7 linked regions of the Homo sapiens genome follow. The protein of the gene in region 4 interacts with the protein of the main gene of each other region in a biochemical or structural test. Each region holds a gene or a part of one and is shown on either strand. Other genes may lie near its edges.

What was found.
Region 1: of the proteins of KHDRBS1 (region 4) and YES1, one has a biochemical effect on the other in vitro, tested with the Homo sapiens proteins (2 studies listed by BioGRID, with this or other methods).
Region 2: the proteins of KHDRBS1 (region 4) and AHI1 interact in a test that uses a peptide from one of them, tested with the Homo sapiens proteins (one study listed by BioGRID).
Region 3: the proteins of KHDRBS1 (region 4) and OGT form a complex in vitro, tested with the Homo sapiens proteins (one large-scale study listed by BioGRID).
Region 5: the proteins of KHDRBS1 (region 4) and PLCG1 form a complex in vitro, tested with the Homo sapiens proteins (one study listed by BioGRID).
Region 6: the proteins of KHDRBS1 (region 4) and PTK6 form a complex in vitro, tested with the Homo sapiens proteins (one study listed by BioGRID).
Region 7: the proteins of KHDRBS1 (region 4) and TJP1 interact in a test that uses a peptide from one of them, tested with the Homo sapiens proteins (one study listed by BioGRID).

What each region holds. Positions count from the first base shown.
Region 1 is NC_000018.10:805,743-809,242, forward strand, and holds part of YES1 (tyrosine-protein kinase Yes), read right to left. Parts: intron 1-3,500. UniProt on the Homo sapiens protein: Non-receptor protein tyrosine kinase that is involved in the regulation of cell growth and survival, apoptosis, cell-cell adhesion, cytoskeleton remodeling, and differentiation.
Region 2 is NC_000006.12:135,459,741-135,463,240, forward strand, and holds part of AHI1 (jouberin), read right to left. Parts: coding exon 3,385-3,500; intron 1-3,384. UniProt on the Homo sapiens protein: Involved in vesicle trafficking and required for ciliogenesis, formation of primary non-motile cilium, and recruitment of RAB8A to the basal body of primary cilium.
Region 3 is NC_000023.11:71,536,104-71,539,603, reverse strand, and holds part of OGT (UDP-N-acetylglucosamine--peptide N-acetylglucosaminyltransferase 110 kDa subunit), read right to left. Parts: intron 3,427-3,500; coding exon 3,246-3,426; intron 1,776-3,245; coding exon 1,532-1,775; intron 1-1,531. UniProt on the Homo sapiens protein: Catalyzes the transfer of a single N-acetylglucosamine from UDP-GlcNAc to a serine or threonine residue in cytoplasmic and nuclear proteins resulting in their modification with a beta-linked N-acetylglucosamine (O-GlcNAc).
Region 4 is NC_000001.11:32,027,368-32,030,867, reverse strand, and holds part of KHDRBS1 (KH domain-containing, RNA-binding, signal transduction-associated protein 1), read right to left. Parts: intron 571-3,500; coding exon 446-570; intron 1-445. UniProt on the Homo sapiens protein: Recruited and tyrosine phosphorylated by several receptor systems, for example the T-cell, leptin and insulin receptors. Once phosphorylated, functions as an adapter protein in signal transduction cascades by binding to SH2 and SH3 domain-containing proteins.
Region 5 is NC_000020.11:41,144,043-41,147,542, reverse strand, and holds part of PLCG1 (1-phosphatidylinositol 4,5-bisphosphate phosphodiesterase gamma-1), read right to left. Parts: intron 1-3,500. UniProt on the Homo sapiens protein: Mediates the production of the second messenger molecules diacylglycerol (DAG) and inositol 1,4,5-trisphosphate (IP3). Plays an important role in the regulation of intracellular signaling cascades.
Region 6 is NC_000020.11:63,530,939-63,534,376, reverse strand, and holds part of PTK6 (protein-tyrosine kinase 6), read left to right. Parts: intron 1-61; coding exon 62-225; intron 226-672; coding exon 673-826; intron 827-1,689; coding exon 1,690-1,851; intron 1,852-3,438. UniProt on the Homo sapiens protein: Non-receptor tyrosine-protein kinase implicated in the regulation of a variety of signaling pathways that control the differentiation and maintenance of normal epithelia, as well as tumor growth.
Region 7 is NC_000015.10:29,815,969-29,819,468, forward strand, and holds part of TJP1 (tight junction protein 1), read right to left. Parts: intron 1-3,500. UniProt on the Homo sapiens protein: TJP1, TJP2, and TJP3 are closely related scaffolding proteins that link tight junction (TJ) transmembrane proteins such as claudins, junctional adhesion molecules, and occludin to the actin cytoskeleton.

The sequences.
Region 1 (3,500 bases), on a different chromosome or scaffold from region 4:
TAATCACATCAGAACAAAAGTTAGAAGTCAATACATTCGCCAGGAAACAATGTGAAGTATTAACTTATACACAACCACCACCAACTTCCTCACCTCACCCCAATTTCTACTTAATGCTAAGAAACTGAAAAGTTACATTAAAAAATTAGAGAAGTGAAAATCCTCTTAAGTCAGTTGAAGAAAACCTAGAATCCACATTTTGCTGGGAATAGAGGCTGAAAACCAGACAATCTTGAAGTTTCAGGGGTCAGTACTTTTCCTCCTAGCACTTCCTGTTCCGTCCTCACCCCCAATAACCCAGCAAAAGTACACCTATGAATTATGCATTCCTTCACACACATTACTGCAAGAAAATCAGGACTTCTTTTTCTTTTTGTCCTAGGTATATATGAACAAGTCATAATTGTAATACTGATTGTCACTACTGTGATGAGATACCAAATGCATTTTTTAAAAATCTAGGATTTTTCTTCAGCATAACTTGGACTTTCTTCACTAAAATAGTACAACGTATTTATTTAAAATAAACCTTACTAGAGACTAGTTTAACTTCAACTACAATGAATTTTCAGTTCATATTAGAAATATCAAAATGACCTTTAAATTCATATTTGAAGGACTGCTTAAGCTATTTTGTAAAATCACCTTCTAGAACAAAACCTTGAGAGCAAAAATCTAAAGAATTAACTTCGAGCTATGAAAAAGTATTAAGCTAGTTTTATAACATTTTAGTAGAGGTGTACTCAAAAGATTTGTTTTGTTTGCGAAAAGTCCATAGCTGTAATTCATATAAATCTGCCCAGAACCACATCCCTACATACAATTCAGAATTTATTTAGTATTTATTGTGCTAAGGGCTGTTCTCAAAGATTGCTATAAAACAGTTCCTTGACACAGTGAATACTAGGTCAAGAATAACAGACAAGCATGGAAAGAAATAATTACAGTGCAAGGAGAGGTGTGTTTTGACATAAGTGTTTTGTGGGAGCACAAAGAGGTCATAACACCAATCTCTTGCTAAGTATATGCCATAATGATGTGTACTTCTTACTGTTCAAATGCATGGTCTAACTGTACCTCATCCTTCCTCTGGTTATACAAGTTTGAGCACTACTTTTCTCAATCCTCTCTAATCTCCATCCCAAATGCCAAACCCCAAACTACCAAATTCCAAAGACAAGATAAGTCAAAGGAATATCTCCAGATTTTCAGTAGATAGTAGTGGTAAAAGTAAGGACAAGACGCTGCTGTGGCTGGGTGTGGTGGCCTGTAATCCCAGCATTTCGGGAGGCCCAGGCAGGTGGACTGCTGGAGCCTAAGAATTTGAGACCAGCCTGGACAACACGGTGAGACCCCATCTCTCCAAAAAATTCAAAAATTAGCCAGGCATGCTCCAGTCTGGCCAACATGGTGAAACCCTGTCTCTACTAAAAGTACAAAAATTAGCCGGGCGTGGTGGTGCACGCTTGCAATCCCAGCTACTCGGGAGGCTGAGGCAGGAGAATCACTTGAACCTGGGAGGCAGAGGTTGCAGTGAGCCAAGATCGTGCCATTGCACACCAGCCTGGGCAGTAGAGTGATACTTCATCAAAAAAAAAAAAAAAAAATTAGCCAGGCATGGTGGTGCACACCTGTGGTCCGAGCTACTCAGGAGGCTAAAGTGGGAGGATCCCTTGGGCCCCAGAGGTCAAGGCTGCGGTGAGCTGTGACTGCACCACTGCACTCCAGTCTGGGCAACAGAGCAAGATCCTGTCTCAAAAACAAAGCAAAACACAAAAACACAAAAGATGCGACTGCTGCTATTTGCTTGGCATATTTATAAGCTGAGCAGCATTTTAGAAGCAGCAAAATTTGCCTATGGCATCTTCCAGTCTGGGGATTGCCATATATAGCTGATAACGTATTTGCAACTGTTGATGTCCATCTTCTCAAACGCCAGGGATAAAGAAAGAACAAAAGGAAAAGAATGCAGAGTTCCTACTAGCAAAATTCAGGCAGCCACCACGGATATGCAATGTATAGCTAATTCTAGAAGTTATCCCTCTTGAAGGCCTTCCACTTCCTAGGAGAAAGTAGAGTCCAAAGAACCTATATGCCAGCAATTCTACTCCCCTCCCCTAAACAACAATAAAAGAAGCAATTCTAAGAATCACAGCTTAAAGTGAAATGAAGTATAATGCTTCAAGGAACCTGCAGTCTCACAGCTTACTGTACATTTGAACAAGAGAAACTGAAGGGCATTGCTACCCTAGATTTGGGGGGGAAAAGGAGTTGAGGCACAGAGGCTTGTAACTCAGTCCATTAGTACCTCAACAGTACATTATTCTATACTCTAAAATTACAGGATTCTCTGTCTTTCCTGGAGTGGGCTTTCAGATCTTAAAGGTAAACCCAACGCAGACCAGGATATATTGCCATCAAGTCTGCTAGTTCCAAGACAACAGTAGTGCTGCTGCAGCCAACGATTCCTTGGCATACAGACATGTGAAAACGATATTGGCGGCAGCACTGGCTCTTCTCTTTCACCCTCTACTGTTACTATAGCTCCTTTTGCTAAATCTGCCTCTGAGTTTAGACAGGAGCTGGATGGTTAGTAATCACCCAGCAGCTGCAGCTGAGCAATACTCAGCCTAATTGTGGCACTGGAGCAGCTGAGAGGAAGAAAAGAGATAATACATACCCTACCATAGCCATACACGAACTACCAATAAGACAAGACACTTTAATAGAAACAGATTATTTCCTTTAAAGAAAAGCAGTTGTGCCTCGCTATAGGACTTATATTATAAAACTGTTTAAATGTGAACTGAAGGTGACCTAAGCCATGTAGGGTTCTAAACAATGGAAGATCTTACTAAAACTTCCTGTAAATATTCACACAACAAAGCGTGCACCACAAACATCACCTTTATAACATGACTGAAAGTTCCTGTGATATAAAAATTTGGCACAGATGAGATCTCTTCTTCAACTCTACAACAATGCAAAGCCACAATATCAACCACTAAAATAGCAAGCCATTACATAAAGCAAATAAAATAGCATGACCCAATGATTCTCTGCATTTCTGAAACTCCAACACCATATTGTCATTTGCCTTTTGAACCAAAACATATTCATCCTTCAGGTGCTGTGAATCTTCATAAACTTTAAACAAAAACTTATTTTATGCTGAGATTTCATGGCATTCTTAAGAATAGAAAAACTAAGGCTGAAATTACTGATCTAAAGAATTACTGTTCTAGAAAACCGAAAATAGATAAAAGTCAAAACTTAGGATCTTGATGCCGTAATTGAGTTTTGAGTTTTAATTGTCATGTTATGTAATTTTCAGAAAAACAGAGTATTTGATGACAGAACAGTATCCATTCGTTCAATAAACATTTTGATTATCTTCTATTGGTTATTTACAACATACAAGCCGAAGCGGATTTTAATTTTGTAAAACCTGTGTCTTCTGTGAAAATATTAAAACAATTAAGTTATTAAAGAAAACGAAC
Region 2 (3,500 bases), on a different chromosome or scaffold from region 4:
AAAAAAAAAAAAAAAAAAGATTGATAATAAAGAGATTAAATCTTGATTTGTATCAAGGCAAGCAAAATGATAAGGCATAAGGACTGAAAAAGAAGCGATAAAACTATCGTTATTAACGTATTACATGATTGCATATGTAGAAAAATCCAAACAATGTAAGAATAAACTCTGTGGGCCGCGATAGCTCACATCTGTAATCCCAGCACTCTGGGAGACTGAGGTGGGAGAACTGCTTGAGCCCAGGAGTTTGAGACTAGCCTGGAAAATGTAGTGAGACCTTGTCTCTACAAAAATTAGCCAAGAATGGTGGTGCATGCCTGTAGTCCCAGCTACTTGGAAGACTGAGGTGGGAAGATCGCTTGAACCTGGGAAGTATAAGTTGCAGTGAGCTGAGATCACGCCACTGCACTCCAGCCTGAGTGACAGGGCAAGACCCTGTCTCAAAAATAAATAAATAAATAAACTCTTGCAATAAGTGAATTTAGCAAATCAATGGACACAATGTTAAAAAATTTTAAATACATTTCTACATATATGTACCAGCAACAAATACAAAACAAAAATTTTTTAAATGCCATTTATAATATCATTAAGAAACATCAAATCCCAGGAATAAATCTAAGGAGAGATTCTGCTGAAATGTATATTGCTGGGATATATTAAATAAGATGCAAATAAATGGAAGTGCATACCAAATTCATAGCCTGAGAATCAATACTGTGTAAAAATGTCAAGTCTCTTTAGAGAGTTGTTATGCTGTGACTCTTTAGATTCACCCAGTCTAGATCAAAATCACAGCTTGCAAGACAGAATGAGGGTAAAAAGGAAGAGGGAGAATGGAGAAGCTCTTCTAAAATCCATACAGAAATGCAAAGTAAAGAATAGCCTAGACAATGCAGATGAAGAAGGAAAAACCTAGAGTATAATACTAAATAGCAAGACCTATTAAAAAGCTACAGTATTTAGACATGGTAGTGTTGGTACAAACTGTCTAATTTAAAAGAATAGAGACTACAAAAACTGATCCACATGTAACACAGTCATGTTATTTATGGGAAAAGTGACACTGCAACACAGAGGGAAAAAGACACTCTCTTCAGTAAATGGTACTGGGTCAATCATAATATATATTCACATGGATATCTTGATCACTGCTTCCTATCATAAACATAAACCAATTCCTGATGAACTGCATATCTAAATGTGAAAGTAAAACAGAAACAGTAAAACTTTTAGAATAAAACTTTTAGAAAAATATCTTCAGAACTTAGGAAAGATTTCTTAAATCACAGCACTTACCATCAAAGGAAAAAAATGGATAAACTGGACAATACAAAAATTTCTGTTTTTCAAAAGACACCAATGAGAGAGAAATAATCAAACCAGAGTAGGACGACATTTGCGATATAAATGTGGGTAGGTATTTATATCTGAGAATAATCTCATATTGAGGTATATAAACCTATCACTACAAATCAATTAGAAAAAGACAATTCTGTGTTTTAAAAAATGCAGACAACTTGAATATATTTACAAATGTCAAAATCTAAGTAGTTAATAAACATGAAAACACTCAACTTCAATAGTTACCATGGAAATAAAATTAAAACCAAAATGAATATCACTATACATTCCTGAAGAATGAGGAAAATTTAGTCACTCCTAAGAATGACTAAAACGTTAAAAAACAGTATTACATGTTGGTAAAGATGTGGAGTGACTGGAACTCTCAAACACTGCTAGTGTCAACTGGTAAACCAACTTTGGAAAACTGGAAGTAATTATTAAAGCAAAAAATATACATAATCTATGACAGCAATTCTACTCCTAACAATATGCCCAAGATAAAGGTATGCATGTGCTTACCAAATACGTGACTGCAATGTGAATTACCGCTTTACTTATAATTGCCTAAAACTAGAAACAACTCAAATGACCATCAATAAAATAGGCAAATTAACTGTGGTATATTCACACAATGGATATCTAAATAATACAAAAACAGAATTAAGAATGAATAAGCTCAACTGTATGCAAGCAACAGTAGTATAAATCTTACAAAATTAACATTGAGTAAAAAAAGTCAGGCACAAGGAGCACAGTATTTATCATTCTATTCATATTAAAGTATAAAAATAAGCAAAAATAAACTCTGTTAGATGTCCAGGTAGTGGTTACTCCCACAGGGCAACTAACGGGAAGGTGATTTTTCTGGGTGCTAATGATGTTCTGTTTCCAAATTTAGGTAATGATTTTATAGGTATGTTCAGTTTGTGAAAAAAACTTTAAAAATATGTATATGAGTATACTGCTTAGTGCTTTATATATATAGAAACACATAAAACAAGTATACTGCTTAGTGCTTTTCTATATATATCTATATACACATTATGCTTCAACAAAAGATTTTAAAATTTTAATTATAGAAACCACAAAACATCATCACTTACATCTTCTAATGAATAAGTACTATAAAATCTAAAATTGCCCATTTTAATCCCAATTTTTGGCCAATCAAATGGAAACTGAAAGACTAAAAAAGGATGTATGAGTAGAAAAGAACATGTAAAGAAAAATAAGAGAAAACAAACAAGAAAAGAAGAAGACAGAAATCAACAAGGCAAAGAGAAAAGTTGAGAAAGGAAAGAAGTGGTATTAGGCTGACGAATTGGGAGGATACCATGTTGGACAGGATGCAGCCTTAACATCAGAAATGTTTATTGGCTGCTGACCATTTATAGCTTTCAACAACTGAGTCCTAACCATTTAGAGGATGTAAACTCAATGGTTTAAAGAAGAAATCCTCTATGACCCAATAGCAACTACAAAGTCAGTATCATTTTAGAGTTGAATTTAAAGTATGACAAGAATCAGAGAAGGTCAGGCATGGTGGCTCATGCCTGTAACCCCAGCATTTTGGGAGGCTGAGGCAGGTGGATCACTTGAGGTCATGAGTTCGAGACCAGCTTGGCCAACATGGTGAAACCCCGTCTCTACTAACAATACAAAAATTAGCCGGGTATGGTGGCATGCATCTGCAATCCCAGCTACTCAGGAGGCCGAGGCAGGAGAATCGCTTTAACCCGGGAGGTGGAGGTTGCAATGAGCCGAGATCGTGCCACTGCATTCCAGCCTGGGAGACAGAGTAAGACACCATCTCAAAAATAAAAAAAATCAGAGAAGACTCAAGTGATACAAACTCATCAGAGACCTACAGCTACAAATACATGTGTGCTTTAATCTAGATGAATTCAAGAACAAGTACCAAATATCCTATATTGAATTATTTTCAAGTATACCCATCAGTTTTAAAGGGCTAAAATTCCTAGAATCAAGTTATTTCTACCAACATACACAATTTTTCATTTAATTTGTATAGCAAACCTGCTTTAGTCTTCTTTTTTGTTTTTTTTGGTTTAGGTTTTGTATCATCTTGCATGCTGTCTTCTGTGCTTTGTTCCATTGAGCTTATTTCATCATCTTGATGAGAATCTGAAGAA
Region 3 (3,500 bases), on a different chromosome or scaffold from region 4:
TATATACACTGAGTGTCTCAGAAAAGATAGACAAGAAATTAGTTTCATTTGCTACCTCCAAGAGTGCTAACTGGAGGTATTCACTGTATCCATTCAAAAACCAATAAATTTAGAAGCTGGGTGTGGTGGCACACACCTATAGTCCCAGCTACTCTGGAGGCTGAGGCAGGAGGACTGCTTGAGCCCAGGAGTATGAGTACAGCCTGGGCAACATAGCAAGACTCCATCTCTTAAAAAAAAATGTTTTTTAAAGCAATGGATTTTCTAAAAAGGACACGTTTAAACTCTCAAAATTAACTACAAAAATTGTTAATAGATATCATCATGAGAAGTGACTTCGGATCTTTGAACAAACTACTAAATTTAGTTTCAGTTTCCTAACCAAAAAATAAGGGACAGCAAAATATGATCAATGGTTTTTTAACTGTGCTCAAGGGCTGCTTTGATGGGTGAGTGCCCTCTGGGCACATCATCCCACTTTTATTTCTTTTCACTTCAACATTTGCTTTGAGGATATTCAGACTCAGGTTTTAATATCTATTAATACTTCATTACTAGCTTTGTCCCCATGAAAGCCACATAACCCTGAGTCCATGGTTTTTTTTTAATTGATAAAAATCAGAAATAATATCATCTATTTTGAAGAATTATTGTGAGGATTAACTAAGACCAATCATTTAAAGCTGTCAGTAGAGTGTCTGACCACACAGACTTTCAGTAAACGGTAGCTAAAATAAACTATTAGCCATTTCCAGGTTGGTTACAAAACTGAATGTTGACAATGTAACTTGGGAACTTTTTCTAGATTTCTATAACCCCACTATCATTTACCTCTTAAGTTTACATCTACTTTCTCTAACTACATCATAAGTTCTGAGGGAAAGTCTTATGTTTTTGTATCTTTCGGAGATCCTAAACACAGTATGAATTTAAGGTCTGCCAGCTGAGCCTTACTTGTTCCCAGAACACATCTGCAACTTAGACAAAAAAAATTTTTAAACTAATCAAAAGCCCAGTATAAGTAGTATCATCTAAATTCTATGACTTCTAATTACATTGAAAGAGAAGAGAATAGGATATTGAGGAAGAAATTTTGTAGCCTAATTTTCACATCATTCCATATAGTGGCATCTTGTTTCAAACTATTTTATATTACAGATTTTACAGATTAAGACCCATTATCCACCATTCCTTGAAAATCAATTAACTTGCAAACACTTATCAGAATTTATCCAAAGTTAATCACAACAGAAAAAAGTCATGTGCTCTGTACTTTATACGTGTTATTTTAAAATTGATGTAGTTTCTTGCAATAAGAATTTTTATGCTTTTTAATATAACTTGCTAAATAAAACAAATATTTTAGCATAACGCAGACCAGCTAAAAGCAATTTCACCATTTTAAGTACATACGCATTTCTAAACTTTTGACTTTATTCCATGTGAAAACCTACTTTAGTGTCTGAAATATCACACTATGTTTCTTTCTGGGTTTCTAGGAAGGGAAAGTAACCATTAAAATTTTACTCACAGGATTGTACTGAAGAGCAGAGACGTAAGCTTGTACTGCCCCTTCCATGTCACCCGCTGCTACCAAGGCGGCTGCCAGGTTAATATAACCATCGATGAAATCAGGTTTGAGACGCAATGCATGTCGATAATGCTCAATTGCCTCCTGCAACTGCCCTCTTTCCTTGTACACATTCCCCAAATTCGAATAAGCTTCTGCCAGAAGGGGGTTCTGTTTAATTGCCAGAGTGCTAAAGTGAGCAGATCTGGAAAAGGCGACAAGTGTTAATGCATGGGTATGCACGTTACAGAAAAGAAGGTATGGCCCATATGCAACTCAAACAGTTTGAGATCTGTGCTATTGCTCATTATATAATACCTTATCTTTTAACTAGTGCATAGCAAGAAAAATTTGGGAAATCAAAGATTTTCAAAAGTGGAGGTATTCTAGATTTCAAAATGAAAAGCTTTTTCTTATTAAATAAAATTATTGGCTGGGCGCAGTGGCTCACGCCTGTAATCCCAGCACTTTGGGAGGCTGAGGCGGGAGGATCACCTGAGGTCAGGTGTTCGAGACCAGCCTGGCCAATATGGTGAAACCCCGTCTCCACTAAAAATACAAAAATTTAGCCACGCATGATGGCAGGCGCCTGTAATCTCAACTACTCAGGAGGCTGAGGCAGGAGAATCGCTTGAACCCGGGAGGCGGAGGTTGCAGTGAGCTGAGATTGCGCCACTGCACTCCAGCCTGGGTGACAAGAGCAAAACTCCACCTCAAAAAAAAGAAAAAAATTCTAACTAGAGTCTTGTTACAAAACTACCACATTGGCCGGGCGCGGTGGCTGATGTCTGTAATCCCAGCACTTTGGGAAGCCAATGCGAGCAGATCACCTGAGGTCGGGAGTTTGAGACCAGCCTGACCAACATGGAGAAACCCCGTTTCTACTAAAAATACAAAAATTAGCTGGGCGTGGTGGCACATGCCTGTAATCCCAGCTACTCAGGAGGCTGAGGCAGAAGAATCGCTTGAACCCAGGAGGCAGAGTTGCAGTGAGCCGAGATGGCGCCGCTGCACTCCAGCCTAGGCAACAAGAGCGAAACTCCGTCTCAAAAAAAAAAAAAAAAAAAAAAACCCACCACATTGGAAATCATGATCATTAAGATAAAAAATGGAAAGCTATGTGCACGAGTCTCATTTTCCATTTAAGATTTAATGATGCACATCTTTAAGTGTCTAAATATGCCAGAATAACAATTATTAAAAGGACAGGAACACAAATTCTTCCCTTTTGATTAATTCAACTGATTAACTAAAAGCAACACACCATAACAACTTAATGAAACTCCAGGTATGCATCTCCTGCCACAGCATACATAACCATCATTTCTGAGCATTTCAGTCCCTCAAACTGACAGGTCTCATGAAAGGGAGACTGGATGCTCAGATATACATTGATAATAATTTATTACCTGAACAGAGTCTAGAAAGCAGCAGACCCAGATAGAAAAATCTAGAAAAGGTCCCTAGTCATACTGATAATATAACCACCACCACAAAAGGAAGGAGAAAAACTGGCAGCTGGGCATGTCACAAGTGGGCAAGAGAGCAGATGTGCGTTGGCGGCTCAGTTGAAACCCGGTACTGGAAAAATTTCAAGTTCAAATATTTAAGTATCATTTTTCAAGCTCAGCACCCAGAGGCAGCAATCACGAGCAGGTACCCCAACATCTCCTACCTGTCCAGCCTTCGACACTGGAAGTGTATAGATGAAAGTAATAAAAGCACACCAGTATTGTCTGGCTCTTGTCTCCAGAGCTGCATGCAGTGTCTCTCAGCTGCCTCAAAATCTCCTGCCTGATATTCTCGATGTGCCAACTCAGCTAACCCTTGGAAGGAAAGCATACGTTTCGTTGGTTCTGGAGAATCATCAAAACATTTGAGGGAAGGAGGGGGGAAAACAAAAAGTTAGAAATGTAAACCAAAAAAATGT
Region 4 (3,500 bases):
TAAATGCTTTCCTAAAAAAAAAAAAAGGAAGAAAAAAAGCATTTACTTAAAAGTAAACTTTTAGTAAGAAAATAAAATTAACTTCAACCAATTGAGGATTCATATTATATTTCCTTTTATTTAGATTTCAGGTTAGTCTTTTGACAAAGAGCAACTCTTCAGGTTTTAATTTTTTTTTCTTTGAACTTGTAGCCTGAGCAATCATTTGAGAAAGAAACTTTTTGATAATAAAAAGATGATTATATTTCCTTCCTGGCTATAGCTATGTTATTAGTTAAGAACTTAGATATTTCAACTCTCAGTAACAGGTACTACAAGCATGAAAGAGAAGCTTCACAGGCTTAAGTTTCTAAAGCATCACAATCCCCAGGAGTCTTTATTATAGCCCATGACTCTCTCATAACTATAAAGATAACTCAAAGATCCAAAGCACTTTTTGCCTTACCTTGGGATACTGCTTGACAGGTATCAGCACTCGCTCTTTCAGTTTCATGTTCTTATGAGAAAATAAATCCAAGTAATTCTCCTCATCATCCTTTTTTGAGTCTCCTTTCTGAATCTTCTCAATTTCTGAATAGGAAAAACAATTTATTTTTGCCCTGGTAAATAAATGCAAATTTTGAAGTCTGCTTAAAGCAATAACATGGAATACCATATAGTGAAACCAAATAGTTCACACAAATGTGCCAATTTCAGAAAGAAACTAGCTGAAAGCACTAAAGCTATATGAAGTTGACTAGAAAGCCCAAAGCCTGCTTCTAATAAAAGAAGTGTACTCTTCCACCCTCACCTGAAGCCATGACAACAGAGACATTTAAATGTTTCTTAAATCAATTTAACAAAATTAATTGGGTGAGATGGGGGAAAGGAGAATAAAGAAACAAACAAAAAAATCAAAATCTGCATCAAGACAAAGTATAATCTTACCTTGAAAAAAACAAAAGTAAATAATCTAAATATACAATGGATAGTTCCATTAAAGTTCCACGGTGACATTAGTACTCTAGATACTAGTCCTTAAGAGTCTGAAAGACCTTATTCTTACTCTGCTACTCACTAGTCGTGTGACCTAAGTTAATAAAATACGTAGATATGCCTAATTAAGGCCAATTTTTCATAAAGTACTTAATATATCGTTACCGTTATCTAGCCCAAATTCAGCCAATGCCTAAATGATACAAAATGCACAAGGTACTTTTTTTTCTTTTTTGAAATGGAGTTTCGCTCTTTTTGTCCAGGTTGGAGTGCAATGGCATGATCTCGGCTCACTGCAACCTCTGCCTCCTGGGTTCAAGCAATTCTTCTGCCTCAGCCTCCCAAGTAGCTGGGATTACAGGTGTGTGCCACCATGCCCGGCTAATTTTGTATCTTTAGTAGAGAAGGGTTTTCTCCATGTTGGTCAGGCTGGTCTCGAACTCCCGACCTCAGGTGATCCGCCTGCCTCAGCCTCCCAAAGTGCTGGGATTACAGGCGTGAGCCACCGCGCCCAGCCACCAGGTACTTTTTAAAAAAACATTTTATTGAAGTATAACTGATATGTAAAAAGTTATACATAATTAATGTATACAATGATGAGTGTGGAGATAAGTATACACCCATGAAACCATCACCACCATCATGGGCACAGACATATCCATCATCACCTAAAAGTACTTTCAATTCGCGGGTTAAGACAGTTTCATTAGATAGAAACTTGGCATACAAAAAGATTTCCTACCATTAAGGAACTTCATTCATTGAGTGACTGCAAGTGTTTGAGTGCTTCCTATAGTATGGAGAGGCAGATGAAGGGAGGGCTATAATAGGTACAATCATTAACCACTATGGAGGACTTAATAAGAGCCAGACATCTGTCTTGCAAAGCACAGGAGATACAATAGAGCGAGTCAGACTGGTCTCTTGTCTTCACTGTTTATATACTGGAGTTCCCAGACTATAGAGGTGGCAATGAAGTAAAGTACTATAACAGGAGTTCTAATAGAGATGAGGGCAGAGTGCCCAAGGATGAGTAGCAACTGAAAGCTTATATGATCCACTGAGAGTAGTTAAAAAAAAAAAAAATAGGCCAGGTGCGGTGGCTCACGCTTGTAATCCCAGCACTTTGGGAGGCTGAGGCAGGAGGATCACAAGGTCTGGAAATCGAGACCATCCTGGCTAACACGGTGAAACCCCATCTCTACTAAAAATACAAAAAAAATTTAGCCGGGCGTGGCGGTGGGCACCTGTAGTCCCAGCTACTAGGGAGGCTGGGGCAGGAGAATGGCATGAACCCAGGAGGCAGAGCTTGCAGTGAGCCGAGATCGCGCCACTGCACTCCAGCCTGGGCGACAGAGCGAGACTCTGTCTCAAAAAAAAAAAAAAAAAAAAGTATATATAGTATATATATATACGTGTATATATATATACTCCCTAAAATCAGTGGAACATTCTAAATATCAGAGAATAGTCTGTAATAGAATATTACATAACATTCCCATCTTCTATAATTTTAAGGCGGGGGTTCTCAAACTTCTTCATGCATCACAATCACCTAGAAGAGGGCTTATTAAACTAGATTGCTGGGCTTCAAAGCCAGTCTGGGATTTGTGTTAGGAATTTGCATTTCCAACAAGTTCCCAGGTAATTCTGATATTGCTGGTCCAGGGACCATACTTTGAAAACCATTGGCTTGAAGTATAAAGACACCCTACCTCAAACACGTTCCACAAATCTATACCCTTAACAGTTTTTATTTATTAATTATTATTTTTTGAGACAAAGTCTCGCTCTGTCACCCAGGTTGGAGCGCAGTGGTGCAATCTCTGCTCACTGGAACCTCTGCTTCCCGGGTTCAAGCGATTCTCCTGCCTCAGCCTTCCGAGTAGCTGGAACTACAGGCATGCGCCACTATGCCCGGCTAATTTTTTTCCCTATTTTTAGTAGAGATGGGGTTTCACCATGTTGGCTGGGCTGGTCTCGAACTCCTGACTTCAGATGATCCACTCGCCTCGGCCTCCCAAAGTGCTGGGATTACAGATGTGAGCCACCGTACTGGCCTAACAGTTTTTAAAATAAATATTTAGAGAGGTGCAGCTGTGAAATATATAGACGAAGAAAAATAACTTTGACTCTGACATGCCTTAGAGAATTTAGAATTTCAGACTGAATGCTTGTTTGTTAAAAAGCCTAATTTCAGATGCTATACTATACCATGAACTAATAGACACATACTTCCTGGTTTTCTGACAATTAAAATTGCTGATGAATTGTAAATATCCTTAATTAAAAACCTTTACTCCTATGAGAAGAACTGTAAATGACAGTGCTCTTCACAATCCTGTTTCAGTGCTTGGAATAGAAAACAAATTTGACCTTACAGTTAACAGAGTAATGCTTCATTCAACAGTCTACTTGTGAGGGTAATCCTAACCCTAACCCTTACTGTTTGGTGGCAGATCCTGACCTCTACTTCTTTTCCCCTACTGCTAATATACTTTTTCTGATCAATCTTTTTGAGCCTA
Region 5 (3,500 bases), on a different chromosome or scaffold from region 4:
CCCTACTGAGAGAGATGGCTACCTTGGATTTCTTTCTCTGAAGTTGAAGTTGAATAACCTATCGTTTTACCTGCTTAGGACAGCTGCTTGCCCAAACTTTACTAGCACACATGATTGTATGGAGCTTCATGCTTCCGGTGTAGACCAGTTCTCAGGCCAGAACCAGGCCATCCTCTTGTGATCAGTCTGGCAACAGACATTCTGTTCTCACTGGAGGGAATGCTCTGTGTTTCACTGCTGGCCTCAAAAGGCCCTCAGCAAAATCCTTAACAAAGTGACATATGTTACCTTTTCCAACCTCCTTGGTAGATATGCTAAGAACGCCCAAGAAAAGGCCACAGTCCCAGTTAGGATGGACAAGCTAACACAGGCACATTATACTCAATTACTGTTGAAGGTGGAGGAAGTGACTAGGGCAGGAAGAGGGGAGCTGCCTCCAAACAGGTGGTGGACTATCAGGCAGAATAGGGTGACCATAAAGTGGGTCTTCAGTGCCTCAGAGAAGGACCATCACCCCTGCCCCCATCGCTGCCCAACCTCCCAACTGAGGGAATGGAGTTGTATTCCTTAGCTCACCTCCTGCCCCCAAGTAAGCTGAGAAACCTGTGGGACCTATGGCCAACTGGAGCTCTCCTTCACTCCTTCCTAGGGTTAGTCACCCTGTGAACTCAGGCCCACACTCTCTGGGCCTTAGGCTGAAGTCAAGGTGGGGTTGGAATTCTCCCACCACACATCCACACCTACACAGCCAGAACCCAGTGTGGTCAATACCCGACTCCTACCATGGGCAAGGCCAAGCCAAGGACACTATGACCCAAGCCCATGCCCTCAACAATCATTTCCCTCAGAACATTTTAACTCAACCATATCCCCAGGTGTCCAAGAAAACAGGAAGCCAACCCCAAAGTGAACTCCCCACCTGTGCCCAGGAAGAACTAAACACACACAAACAAGTGGCCAAACTCGCCATGGCCCAACTCCTCACCAGTTTGGCCAGCTGTTCACTGTCAGGGCCCAGAACATCAGTAAGACCACCCACTCTCCTCCGTACCCAAGCCTTGCTGCCTTGCGCCCAGGCCCCTCACAGCCTTTGTACAGATGCTTTACCCAACACCTGTGTGCCAGCTGGCAGGTGGAGGGACCCCAGGGGGTAGGATGGGCTGCTACAGGGAGAAAAGCGATTCCATCTTGGCCCTCAGGCCCAGCCTACAGCACTTTAGGCACAGCTGTCTCCTGCCAGCCCTGGGCATTAGCGGTTTTCTGCATGGTCCAGATCACAAGCTTCTCAGGATCAAGGACTGGGTCACCTCGTTTTCTTGCTTCCTAACTCCAGCCTCCTCTGTGCCAGGCCTGGGCTCAGTAAAAAGGGATGCCAGTCTTCTGTAGGAGAACGCCCTGCCCCGTTTACTCTGCATCCTGAGTCTTGCTGAAGCCAGGGCCACCGGCCAACACCAGGAAGGGCCAGGGCCGGAAGGAAGCAGCAGAGCCTATACACAAAGCCTACATGTGGACTATAAAAAGGAGCTCCTCCCTGCCTCCCCCAGGATGGGCCCGGTTCCTAGGAGGTAAAGAGTGGGGAGAAAGCTAGGACTTAAGCCTGGGCACACAGCCACTGCAGCCTCTCAAAAGCTAGCCAAGAACCACCTCAAAAGGAACTAGTCTTGCAAGGAGGGGTGCGAGAATATTAAGGGCTTAGCCAGGAATGCAAGTAGAGACTCTCCAAGTCCCATCTCTTGGGACCATAGCCTCTCTTAAGGCAACCAACTCCACTGTCCCCATTGCTTCTTCCCCAAAACTACAGAATATTCGGGGACCAACCCCTTCTCACACTTCTCTACTCTCTAGGGGCTGAAAACACCCCCTAGAAGTCTCTAGGCACCCATATTCCCCACTTTCTCTGGAGACTTCAGCACACCCAGCAAAGCTCTGGGAAGCAAGTGTGATGAGTGGCAGAAGTAGCGAGAAACTCAAACTCTGGGCAGCAGGAGGATACTGTGGCCACAACAGAGTAGGCTCAGCAGGCAGCTCAAGTAGGGCCATGGGTTGGTGGGGAAGGCGGGGGCAGCTATGGCAGAGATGACAATTAGGCAAGGGCCACACAAATATACCTATTTCAAAGATGTCAGCCAAGACAGTCTCTTGACCCACACAGGCAGCACTCTACTCTACCACAACAGCAAAGCCACACTCACCACATGCATCCTAAGTCATAGAAATTAATTCCTTCTAAACCTCCATACTCCAAATCCCTCTCCAGCCTAGTTTGCCCAGGGTGTTCAGGTTCTGTACTAGAGGCCTCACCCAGAACCACTGAGGCCACTCTCCAGGGACGGTGGTGTAGGTTAGCACACATAGCAAACAGGGGAAATTAACCTTCCTTGTTGCCAGCCATTGATATGTGGGCATCATTTGTTATCACAGCACACCCTCACCTACCCTGACAGAGCAGCCTCTTGCCTTATTTCCTTCATAGAACTCACCAAATCCTATAAGAATTTTATCTGTCTGCCTATTTATCTCCTTTCTGGCTGTATCTACCCTAACCTTATGTCCACTACTGGTCTCCACAGTGCTTGGCACAGTTAGCAAATGCCAGAGTCTAAAGCCAGGGAAGCACAAGTCGTCTCTCACTTATTCAATGAGCCACTGAGGCCCAAGAAAGCTAGTTTTTTGTTTTTTTTTAAGGAGAGTAGGTATGGTGAGATGGAACACAAACCACGCTAGAGATCTACTGCCACCATGAACAAGTCAGAGGCTGGAGTAATCACATCCAGCTCAGTGTGCCCAACACACAGTAGCAAGGCCCACAACAAATGTATGACAAATTAAAGAGCACATGAATGAATGCATGCTCTTGAGTTGTCATAGAGAATCCTGGAAAAGCCCTTCTCAGGATATTTGGGGCATGGAGCCCCAGGTTCCCATGTTCTGTAGAAGCTTAGGCGGAAGTGTCACCACAAACCAGAAAGTCAAGAGGGTGAGGCTCTTCTGTGTCCCACCCCCAATCAGCGGCTACATTCACCCCCATGTAGGAGTGTGGGAAAGGTCTGGGTGGGCCAAGCATCTCGACACCGGTGTTGTGGCAAGGATGAGTGCAGGACGGGTTTTGAAATTGAGGCAATGAGTCCAGCTTGTCCACAGATGGAAGTCTAGGCTGGTCAAACACATGTGGCCAGAGGGAAGAAAAACAAAACAAAACAAAATAACCCTCTGTTCCTATAGAACGGTCCATCCTATTATCATTTTCCCCAGAATGGGAGAATAAACTGAATACTATAGCAGGAATCTGAAATCCTAGGATCTGCCATGAACTTGCTATGTGACCTTACCCTTAGGGCTTGGTTTTCTCCTCTGTAAGAGAGGGATAGTAACTCCTGCCCTCCATGGATTCATGGAGCTGCTGTGAAGTTCAAACAATACAACAGGTGAGAAAATGTTCCATGAACTCCCAATATGCTATTCCAATTCCAGAGTTTTTTGATGCCCCAGTCCTCTGTGTA
Region 6 (3,438 bases), on a different chromosome or scaffold from region 4:
CTGGGGACGCAGGGAGGCGTCGGAGTTGGGGTGGCCACACAGCTCACGCTCTCCCTCCCAGTGCGGGACACGCAGGCTGTGCGGCACTACAAGATCTGGCGGCGTGCCGGGGGCCGGCTGCACCTGAACGAGGCGGTGTCCTTCCTCAGCCTGCCCGAGCTTGTGAACTACCACAGGGCCCAGAGCCTGTCCCACGGCCTGCGGCTGGCCGCGCCCTGCCGGAAGGTAGCCGCTCCGCCCTGACTTGGTCACGCGGGGTCAGGCTGGGGGGTCACAGGCTGGCATTTCCTACTGGGAGAGGTTGGCCGGGCAGCATGGGAGGGGTCCTGACTCACTGACCTGGGGCCCACTGGAGGGAAGCCCATGGTTCTGCAGAGCACAGGTGTTTGCCTGAGTTGGGGGTGGGGCCAGGAGACCATCCCCGGGCCTGGCCACTCTCGGAGAGGCCAGCGGCACTCTGCAGGGTCCTGGCTCCGGTCTGTCTGGGTGTTTCATGCTGGGCTGGGGGCAGCCCCCAGGAGAGTCCACCCTTGTGTCAGACACTCAGAAACCCCCAACCCAGGCTGATCGTGGCCCTAAATCTGAGGCTAAATCCAGGCTCCCTGTGCTGGCTTCAGACTGGCACTTCCTGAAGGATGAGCCCCTGCCCTGTGTCCCCGACTCTTCCTCCAGCACGAGCCTGAGCCCCTGCCCCATTGGGATGACTGGGAGAGGCCGAGGGAGGAGTTCACGCTCTGCAGGAAGCTGGGGTCCGGCTACTTTGGGGAGGTCTTCGAGGGGCTCTGGAAAGACCGGGTCCAGGTGGCCATTAAGGTGATTTCTCGAGGTGAGTGGGCCCCGATCAGGGCTCTGTGTGGCCCCGTGCCTGCCCTGGGCCACCCTCCCACCCCGCCAACAGGGACCTCTGGCCTCGAGCCCCAAGCAGCACCCACAGCGTCCATGCGAGAGTGGTTCCCTTTCAATTGCACCTATGTTTTTACCTAAATACATTTATTATAAAAGAAAATTTTAGGCCGGGCACGGTGGCTCACATCTGTAATCCCCACACTTTGGGAAGCCAAGGTGGGCGGATCACGAGGTCAGGAGTTTGAGACCAGCCTGGCCAACATGGGGAAACCACGTCTCTACTAAAAATACAAAAATTAGCCGAGTGTGGAGGCATGTGCCTGTAGTCCCAGCTACTCGGGAGGCTGAGGCAGGAGAATCGCTTCAACCCAGGAGGCGGAGATTGCAGTGAGCTGAGATCGCGCCATTGCACTCCAGCCTGGGCGACAGAGCAAGACCCCGTCTTGGGAAAAAAAAAAAAGAAAGAAAGAAAGAAAATTTAAAATCCTTGACGTAATGGAAAGCCATTAAAATAGATCACTGGAAATGGGTAAAACTTCCCTGGAACCCGTCTGGGCCCCAGCAGAGGTCTGGCCTCTATGTCAGAGGTCTGGGCCGGGCACAGGAAGAAATCGGGTGGCCACCACAGCCCCGTGGGTACGCCAGGCTGGGGCCCTGTGGGGCCGGCTGCATCTGCCATTTCGTGGCCTCGGGAGCCAGGTGCCCTGTCGGGGGCAGGAGGTCTGTGTGTCCTGCACAGCTGCTGGGTGTGATGGCTGCTGTGTGTGGGGGCAGGGCCTTGGCCTCTTCCTTGGGGCCTGGGGGGTCAGGGGCTGCATCCACCGAGGCCACCCGTCCCCGCAGACAACCTCCTGCACCAGCAGATGCTGCAGTCGGAGATCCAGGCCATGAAGAAGCTGCGGCACAAACACATCCTGGCGCTGTACGCCGTGGTGTCCGTGGGGGACCCCGTGTACATCATCACGGAGCTCATGGCCAAGGGCAGCCTGCTGGAGCTGCTCCGCGGTGAGTGGCATGGGCCGGGGCTCTTGCTGGAGGCAGCGGGGGCACGTGAGGAAATAAAGTGCACACCCCCCCCCCACGTCTACACACACACACACGTAGACACACAGACACACAGACACACACATGCACACACAGACACAGACACAGACACACAGAGACACACACGCACAGACACACATGCACACACACATGCACACAGACATACACATGCACACACAGACACACACACAAGACACATCACATGACACACACAGACATACACATAGACACAGACACACACACAGAGACACACAAAACAGATCACACGGACACACACAGACACACACACAGATCACACGGACACACACAGACACACACACACACAGACACACACTGATCCAGACACACACACAGACACACACAGATCACATTGGCTCAAAGACTTCATCCTCTCTAAGTTCCATTATTTCCTTTCTCACCAAAACCAAAGACAATCGCTGCCAGGGAATGGAGATGCCCGTGCGTGAAGGCGCAGTTTGGATTCCGATGTTAGAATGGGAGGGAACGTTGTGGTATAGGAAAAATGCCGTGTGTGTCTGAGGAGAGCTACACTGAGGCACCACGCACGTTTGCGCTCTGAGCGAAAGGCTCCGTACCCCTCGCCCTCACACAAAGGGCTTGATCATCTCAGACAGTCCCCACGCCCTTCAGGGTCCTCCGGGAGGGAATGTGGGGTAAAACAGGCACCACCAGGCCGCAAGCCGCTGACAGCCATTCTCCTGTTCGAGTTCCCACTGCCTACATCACGCAGTCATGAGCCTCTTCGCTGGTCCTTCTGCGTCCAGCTCCTCCCGCGTCATCACAAACTTCCAGAAGGGAAATCGCTGGGCTAGACCACTAGGAACTGCTCCTTGGTTCTTTTTTTTTTTTTTGAGACGGAGTCTCACTCTGTCGCCCAGGCTGGAGTGCAATGGCGCAGTCTCGGCTCACTGTAACCTCCACCTCCTGGGTTCAAATGATTCTCCTGCCTCAGCCACCTGAGTAGCTGAGATTACAGGCACCTGTCACCACGCCCAGCTAATTATATATATATATATATATATATATATTTTTTTTTTTTTTTTTTGAGACGGAGTCTGGCTCTGTCGCCCAGGCTGGAGTGCAGTGGCGTGATCTCGGCTCACTGCAAGCTCCGCCTCCCGGGTTCACGCCATTCTCCTGCCTCAGCCTCCCGAGTAGCTGGGACTACAGGCGCCCGCCACCACGCCCGGCTAATTTTTTGTATTTTTAGTAGAGATGGGGTTTCACCGTGTTAGCCAGGATGGTCTCGATCTCCTGACCTCGTGATCCATCCGCCTCAGCCTCTCAAAGTGCTGGGATTACAGGCGTGAGCCACCACGCCCAGCTTGCTCCTTGGTTCGTGATAAACAGTTGCCTTCCAGAAGGGCGGTAGCTGGCCTGCAGTTCCAATTTTCAATCAGGCCAGCTGCCCTTTGCCCCGGCCCCTCCTCTGAGCCCGCAGAGCTTGGAGGCAGATGAGACATGGCCCAGCCTCCCCAACCCTTCCCCACCTCAGCTGGCTCAGCTGACCCCAGGCTCTGCTCCACT
Region 7 (3,500 bases), on a different chromosome or scaffold from region 4:
TCGAAGCCACAGATTGGTTTCCACCTCATTATTTATTGGTGTCTTTCCTTTTTTTTTTTTGAGACAGACTCTCACTCTGTTGCCCAGGCAGGAGTGCAGTGGTGCTATCTCGACTCACTGCAACCTTGGCTCAACTGCAAACTCTGCTTCCTGGGTTCAAATGATTCTCCTGCCTCAGCCTCCCAAGTAGCTGGGATTTTAGGCATGTGCTACCACACCCGGCTAATTTTTGTATTTTTAGTAGAGACGGGGTTTCGGCCGTGTTGGTTGTGCTGGTCTTGAAGTCCCGCCCTCAGGTGATATGCCCGCCTCAGCCTCCCAAAGTGCAGGGATTACATGCTTGAGTCTGGCAAATTGGTGTCTTTCCTAATAATATAATGTAATTTGTGCCAATATATAACCTGGGGGGGAAGAACACCACAATTTGAAACATAACTATCTTATGAAGCTGTCCTGAAACAAATGTAAGAGTTGTAAAATGTAGTTAGGATTATCAGCCAACTATATAAATTAAAGCTTTAACCATGATGGTCTAAAATGCCAAACACACACAAAAATTATTGCTACAGTGAGGATCATTAAAAGTTGGCAGCCAAACTTCAGTGACTTCTCACAAACTACAGTGAGTTTTTCACTTTTAAAACAGTATGAAGCAAGTATGCATTGATCAGTAACTATCATAATTAAAACACTGCATCACTCACTCAAGAAACAATCCCTATATGTAATGACTGACTCTTGTCATTAATTTTTGTTCATTAGCTTGGCCATTTTCTGCAGCTCTTAAGGTTTCAAAAACGTTAAGATATCAAGAAAAGCCCACTGTATACACAAATTAACTCAAGATGGATTAAAGACTTCAATGTAAAACCCAAAACCATAAAAACCCTAAAAGAAAACCTAGGCAATACCATTCAGGACATAGGCATGGGCAAAGACTTCATGATGAAAACACCAAAAGCAATTGCAACAAAAGCTAAAATTGACAAATGGGATCTAATTAAACTAAAGAGCTTCTGCACAGCAAAAGAAACTATCAGAGTGAACAGGCAACCTACAGAATGGGAGAAAAACTTTTGCCATCTACTGATCTGACAAAGGTCTAATATCCAGAATCCACATGGAAGTGAAACTAATTTACAAGAAAACAAATATCCGTATCAAAAACTGGGCAAAGAATATGAACAGACACTTCTCAAAAGAAGACATTTATGCTGCCAAAAAAAAGGAGGTATTTATGCGGCCAACAAACATATGAAAAAATGCTCATCATCACCGATCATTAGAGAAATGCAAATCAAAACCACAATGAGATACCATCTTACACCCGTCAGAATGGTGATTATTAGAAAGTCAGGAAACAACAGATGCTGCCGAGGCTGTGGAGAAATAGGAACGCTTTTACACTGTTGGTGGGAATGTAAATTAGTTCAACCATTGTGGAAGATAGTATGGCAATTCCTCAAGGACCTAGAACCAGAAATACCATTTGACCCAGTAATCCCATTACTGGGTATATACTCAAAGGAATATAAATCATTCTCCTATAAAGACACATGCACACATATGTTTACTGCAGCACTATTTACAATAGCAAAGACATGGAACCAACCCAAATGCCCACCAATGACAGATTGGATAAAGAAAATGTGGTACATATATACACCATGGTATACTATGCAGCCATAAAAAAGAATGAGTTCATGTCCTTTGCAGGGACACGGACGAAGCTGGAAGCTATCATCCTCAGCAAACTAACACCAGAACAGAAAACCAAACACCACATGTTCTCACTCATAAGTGGGAGTTGAACAATGAGAACACATGGACACAGGGAGGGGAACATCACACACCAGGACCTGGGGCCTGTTACCCGGGTTGGTGGTGGGGGGAAAGGGAGGGAAAGCATTTAGGAAAAATACCTAATGCATGTGGGGCTTAAAACTTAGATGATGGGTTCATAGGTGCAGCAAACCACCATGGCACACGTATACCTATGTAACAAATGTGCACATTCTGCACATGGATCCCAGAACTTAATTAAAAAAAAAAAAGCCCACTGTGCTCCACTTGATACAATAAATCAATTCCTGGGTATCATGTAAATCAGTGTAACAGTAAAAAATGACATAAATCATTTTCATACTTACATTATAATTTCAGATAGCCACAGCGGGCAATACTACTATTCCCGAGACTTAACAAAAACATTTAAGTATTCAGCAAAATCTAATAAGCATATACAATAGCACAATCTTAAATTAAATTTTATTGCTTCCTCCAAAGGAAAACAGCTTGAAAACACAGAAGCCACTGAAACTTCCTTCAGCCACTTTTCTGTGATTCAACCAATGAAATCGTTTCTTAACAATGATTCATACCACTTTCTTACACATTTAAACAATTCTTTGGTGACGCAGAGAACCACCCTAATTCTTGTTTTTCAACTTTCTAATAATCTTAAATCAAATACACCAGTAAACAAAATTCTGACTGCGAACGCAGACGTTTATCACACATATAAAAAACGTTTTTTTCCTTTATTTATTTATTTGAGACAGCGTCTCGCTCTGTCGCCCAGGATGGAGTGCAGTGGTGCGATCTTGGCTCAATGCAACCTCTGACTCCCGGGTTCAAGCGTTTCTCCTGCCTCAGCCTTCCCATTAGGGGGGATTACAGGTGCTCGCCACCAGGCCCGGCTATTTTTTTTTTTTTTTTTTTGTATTTTTAGTAGAGACGGGGTTTCACCATGTTGGTCAGGCTGGTCTTGAACTCCTGACGTCGTGATCCGCCCCTCCTGGCCTCACAAAGTGCTGGGATTACACCGCGCCCGGCCACGTTTTTTCCTTCATTACTTTTTGTTTTTGAGACGGAAGCTCACTTTGTCGCCCAGGCTGTAGTGCAGTGGCCCCGATCTCAGCTCAATGCAACCTCCGCCTTCCAGGTTCAAGCAATTCTCCTTCCTTAGCTTCCCAAGTAGCTGGGATTATAGGCACGCGCCACCATGCCCGGCTAATTTTTGTATTTTTAGTAGAGACGGGGTTTCACCATGTTGGCCAGGCTGGCCTCGAACTCCTGACCTCAAGTGACCCACCCGCCTTTATTACTTCTTTAGTATCATGCACGGAGGATTCTTTTCAATCTAGGTACATACATATTTTTAAGTAGTATTCTACATTTTCTTCTATTTTAGAATTTTTATTGCTCTTTGTCATTTAGATTTCCTTTGATTTTTTTTAGCCTATGAGGCAGAAAACATTTTTAAAAAATGGATAACCAATAGTCCTAGCACCATACATTGAACAAGCCACTTTCTCCAATAGTCTACAATATTATTTTTTACCACATATTCGTAGTTTTCCACCTTGCTGGCTAAATGAACTTAAAAGTTATCGTATCTCTGTGTTTCAATTTCTTCACCAAAAAGTAGAGATAATAGTTCACTTCATAGGGTTACTGTGAGAATTAAATAAATTGAGCACTTAGAACAATACCTGACA